2 separate regions of the Homo sapiens genome follow, and region 1 is linked to region 2. The links come from fine-mapping of genetic effects on gene expression. Tissue or cell type: naive CD4 T cells. Region 2 holds a variant in brackets; the other region holds the start of a gene. All regions are shown on one strand. Distances are between the middles of the regions. Region 1 holds the start of TMEM245 (transmembrane protein 245). Region 2 overlaps FRRS1L (ferric chelate reductase 1 like).

Region 1 (2,816 bases), 25 kb before region 2:
TCTAAAGCTCCCTGGTTTTGTAAGAGTAAGCTCAGGTTAATCCAAGCATCACAAATCTACGTCTCTCCCCTTCACGCGGTCAGCTGCTTTACTCCAGGCGGGAGGAGGTGTGCTGTGGTACACCAGTCCCTGCACAACAAAAGCAGTTACCTAAAAGTAAAGCGTGGAGAGGAAGAAGCACAGGCAGCTCAGCACCCAGTGCCTTGCACAAATTATACAGGAATCACCTGAACTGAGAGGCAGCACCAGCCAGTGAAGCAAGCTTTGTTTTAGGACTTGTAAGAAATCTAAGACACCCAAACCCCTCTTTGTCCCTAAGTAGCCCTAGCCTGGTAAGAGGTCACCTTTCCTATCTGCAGGATGGCAAGTTGGCCTAGAATCTCTAAGGTCCCTTCCAGCTCTGACATTCAGATGCGCAGAACTGAGGGTGGCCGAAGCACCCCCGCCCTCTCCAACCAGAAGTAAAACCAAGCCCCACTGCCATGCTCTGAGGCCTCTCTCTGCAAAGCGAAATAACGATTCTCAATCCAGGGCACTGTCCCCCTAAGAGGGCCTATTAGGATTGAAACAAGGCGAAAAGCAGGGAGGCTGTTTCAAATCACGCCCGCCCCCTTTTTGGAAGAATGTCCGCCAAATTCCTGAGGTGTGAGAAGGAAAGCGGAGACGGACGGTCACTGCAGCACAGGTGTGGCCCCTCGTCGCCCCTGCACCGGGAGGAACAGCTGCAGGATTGCACCCCAGAGCGCCGGGACCACGGGCGGGGGACGGGGGCGGACTGCCGCTCACTCACCCACAGGCTGCTGAAGTAGTCCAGCCCGCGGCAGATGAGCGTGGCAGCGTGCACCAGCAGCACCTGCACGCCCAAGTAGCTGCCGAGGCAGTAGAGGCCGTACAGGAGCGGGCCGCCGGCGCCGAGCAGCAGGAGCAGGCGGCGGCGGCGCAGCGCCTGCTCGCCCAGGGCCTCGACGCCGTAGTCGACGAAGCAGAGCGGCAGGAGCAGCGCGGCCAGGACGATGGGCGTGTGCGCGCGGTGCAGGCGCTGCAGCCAGTGGCGGCCCAGGCGCGTCAGCGAGCTCTTGAAGGGGTGCAGAAAAGTGCCGCATAGCACGGCCCAGAGCAGCGGCCGCAGGAAGGCCTCCAGGATGAAGTAGACCAGCACCGCGGCGCCGCAGCACAGGCACACGAACAGCACGGCCCCGGTGTTGTAGAAGGCCTGCTTAATGGGCTTGTCGAAGCGCAGCGCCAGCGCCGCGGTCCGCGGGGTCTCCCCGCCACCGCCACTCGGCCCGACCGCGCGCGGGACCCGCGGCGCCGGCCCGGGAGAGCTCCGCAGGCTTGGCGCGTCCTTAGGGCCGCCGCCGTCGGCCATCGTTCCTCCGCCACAGCCGCCCCCGAGGGGCGGTAATGGGAGTCGGGCTAGAAACGCGGGCGGGAGGCAGGGCGGGAGGCGCGCGAGATTGTGGGAGTTGTAGTTCCCCGCTGGTTTACAGACCCACCAAGCGCTTGCAGGAAACTACAACTCCCGAAGGGGAAATGGGGAAAACGCCTCCGCCTCCTTGGTGTCCGCAAGGTCCTGCTAACAAGTTTGCAGGGTCTATATCTTCCTGGAGGGGGGGGGGGGGGGAAGCTCCTTTCACTCATTCGTTAATGTCAATTTCTCGCGAGGCGAGATCCCAAAAGGCGCCACATTCAGATATTAAAACCCAAGCTGCATACTAGAATACCGTGGGGGAGTACTTTTAAAGAACCAATGCCCCGATTCTGTTTTACTGATTTATTTAACAGATATTTTTAAAGTGTTTTCTTTGGTGTATCTGACAGGATTTTAAATAGAGATTACCATATAACAGGCCCTATTCTAAGTGGCTCACTCCTATTAACTCATTTAATCCTTAGAACAACCCTACAAAGAAGGTGTTATTATCCTCATTTTACCAACAGAAAAACTGAGACAGAGCCGTTAAGTACGCAGCCAGAGTCACACAGCTACCAAGTGGCACAGGCAAGATTCAAACTCAGGGATTCTGGCTCCAAAGGCTATACTTTTATCTACCATAGTATTTGGCCTGAGGAAAGAACTCTTGGCATTTTTCAAACGTTCCTCATAAGCCTGTAATTTGCAGCCGCTGTTGACAACTGTTTGTGCAGGTTTCGCTGTGGACGCAATCTAAACTCTTAAAAGAGTCGTAGATCAAAGTCTCAAACTGCCACTGTTTCTTTTTGAGACTTGATGTAATGTCAGTTAAGCCCCCAATCTCAAGTTTTCCTCTGTCACATGGCGATGATAATAATAATAGCTTTTGCTTTAGGGTTATTGTGTGGGGGAAGGGAAACTCTGGGGCGGTACAAGGTGCTTCTGTTCCCCTATTGGAAAAGTGCTGGGATCCAAGCCTGCTACCCATAAAATATCCCAATCAACATTTTGATTTAAAAAAAAAAAGAAAGCCTTGACTGAGTACTCAACATGTGATTGCTTCAAACCTTGCAAGTTGTCCCTTTCCTGTTTCAATAGTATTCCTATTAATTTCTACATAATTTTTGTTTCCCTTCTAAAGCAGACAAGACAGGTAACATAATCCACAGTTTGCAGATAAAGAAACTATTGCTTGATAGATTTGGAGACAAAGGGATTTAGTAAAGGAAGTAAAGGAAAAAGTAATTCCCTATCCATCTCGATTGTAAGTTTTAGGTCTCAGTATTTCAGATGGCCTTTGGAGTTTTATAACCAAAACGCAGGTTTAGTCGCTCACCACTTGCAGATTCCAATTAACAAGAGCAAGGTCTGGTATAAAGAAAGTGATGTATTCCAAAGCTAG
Region 2 (2,500 bases):
GATACCAAAATATCAAACAAAATTTGAATGCTCCTCACTCTGCCTCACTCCCCTAATCTTAACAGCCCTACCACGAGTGCAAATGCATTTAGGACAGGAAGTGGTCACTTTCAATGCAAGCCAGCTTCTGGGTGTGGCATGCCCTGCTGTTTCTCCTGCTGCCTCTAGGGCAGGAGATAAGTAGACTAATATCTATCCATGCAGTCTTACCAGTGGTACCCATTGTCTTACTACTTGGACTGGAACTCATTGAAGGCTATTCTCCTGGTGACCTCTCCAAGAATAAAGCCACCAGACCAGCCACTGCTTAGACTGCTTATCAGTCTTTTCCTACGACACACCTACAACCCATATATCCAATCCACTTGCAAATCCTGTCAGTCAGTGCTACTTTTTTTCTTTTTTTGAGACAGTCTCGCTCTGTTGCTCAGGGTGGAGTGCAATGGCGCCATCTCAGCTCACTGCAACCTCTGCCTCCTAAGCAATTCTCATGCCTCTGCCTTCTGAGTAGCTGGGATTACAGGCACCTGCCACCATACCCGGCTAAGTTTTGTGTTTTTAGTAGAGACAGGGTTTCACCATGTTGGCCAGGCTGGTCTCGAACTCCCGACCTCAAGCAATCCACCTGCTTCAGCCTCCCAAAGTGCTGGGATTATAGGTGTGAGCCACCATGCCCAGCCAGTTAGTGCTATTTTCTTTTTCTTTTTCTTTTTTTTGAGACGGAGTTTCATTCTCGTTGCCCAGGCTGGAGTACAATGGCACGATCTCAGCTCGCTGCAACCTCCGCCTCCTGGGTTCAAGCGATTCTCCCGCCTCAGCCTCTCGAGTAGCTGGGATTACAGGCGCCCGCCACCACACCCAGCTAATTTTTTGTATTTTTAGTAGAGACGGGGTTTCACTATGTTGGCCAGGCTGTTCTCGAACTCCTGACCTCAGGCGATCCACCTGCCTTGGCCTCAGTTAGTGCTACTTTCAAAACATTCAAAATCTGAGCCCTCAGCACTGTCACTGCTGGAACTTTGGTCTGAGCCGCCCTCCTCTCTCCCCTGTAGCCCCACACAAGCCTCAGAATAGGCCAGGTGAAGAGAAGGGCGGGGTGCTCTAGGCAGAAACAGCCACAAGGGCAAAAGCACAGAGGACTGAGAAAGTCTCATAGTTTGGGAACAAGCCTGGCCCAGTGAAGTGGCAAAAGAATGGGGCTCCAGAGGAAAGAGAGAAAAACGCAGCAAGGCACAGGGAAGAGCAGGGGCCAGTGATGACAGCTGCCTGTGCACCTGAGGCCCCGCCTGTGCCTGGCCACAGTCCTGTCTGAGGTCCAGAGGTTTTCTTGCCCCTGGGTACAGAGGAAGATAAAACTGTTGAAACAAATTCGTAACTTCCCTGATGTAATCCAACATGCCTTTTATAATGAAGCCTCCACAAATATTCAAAAAGAGGCCAGGCACGGAAGTGCCTGTAATCCCGGCAATTTGGGAGGCTGGGGTGGGCAGATTGCTTGAGGCCAGGAGTTCGAGACCAGCCTGGCCAACGTGTGAAAC[C/A]CCATCTCTACTAAAATTACAAAAATTAGCTGGGTGTTTTTTGTATTACAGGTGGGATTACACCTGTAATCTCAGCTATGTTGGGAGCCCGAGGCAGAAAAATCAAACTTGAACCCAGGAGGCAAAGGTTGCAGTGAGCCGACATCATGCCATTGCACTCCAGCCTGGGCAACAGAGCGAGACTCTGTCTAAAAAATAAAAAAAACCCAAAAGGACAGGGTTCGGATGAGCTTCTGGATTGCTGAACAGATGGAGGTGCCTGAAGGGTAGCACACCCAACAGGGTGTTGAAGCTCCTCACTCCCTTCCCCATGCCTTCCCCTAAGTGTCTCTTCCATCTAACTGTTCATCTGTATCCTTCAAAATAGCCTTCATAATAAATGAGTAAAGTAGGTGGGATACGGTGGCTCATGCCTGTAATCCCAGGACTCTGAGAGGTCGAGGTGGGTGGATCATCTGAGGTCAGGAGTTTGAGAACAGCCTGGCCAACACGGTGAAACCTCGTCTCTACTAAAAATACAAAAAATTAGCAGGGCGTGGTGGCAGGTGCCCGTAATCCCAGCTACTTGGGATGCTGAGGCAGGAGAATCGCTTGAACCTGGGAGGTGCAGGCTGCAATGAGCCAAGGTCACACCATTGCACTCCAGCCTGGGCAACAAGAGCGAAACTCTATCTCAACAAACAAACAAACAAACAAATAAATTAAATAAATAAATAAATAAATGAGTAAAGTGTTTCTCTGAGTTCTGTGAGCCACTCCAGGAGATTAACTGAACAGAAGAGGGTGGTGGCACCCCAGATTTATAGCTGGCTGGTCAGAAATACAGGTCACAACCTGGGGCTTGTGACGGGTGTCTGAAATGGGGGCAGTCTTGTGGTTTTGAACCCTTAACCTGTGGGATCTAATGCTATCTCCAGGTAGGTAGTGTCAGAAACAAAGTGAATTAGAGGACACCTAGCTGT

What was found. PIP is the estimated chance that this variant, and not a neighbour inherited with it, causes the effect.
Region 1: TMEM245 starts here. The variant in region 2 is fine-mapped to the expression of TMEM245 in naive CD4 T cells (Schmiedel 2018, PIP 0.95).

The regions. Positions count from the first base shown.
Region 1 is chr9:109,118,545-109,121,360 of GRCh38, forward strand. TMEM245 (transmembrane protein 245) reads right to left here and starts at 1,403. Exons shown (of 18, transcript NM_032012.4): 1 at 791-1,403. The coding sequence starts at 1,369. RefSeq lists silencers at 733-842, 1,193-1,362, 1,503-1,552 and an enhancer at 1,033-1,082.
Region 2 is chr9:109,143,985-109,146,484 of GRCh38, forward strand. The region is part of intron 3 of FRRS1L (ferric chelate reductase 1 like); the gene reads right to left. Among named protein-coding and RNA genes, the nearest start is that of FRRS1L, 22 kb to the right of the region's middle. The variant C/A (reference allele first, on the strand shown) is at 1,539.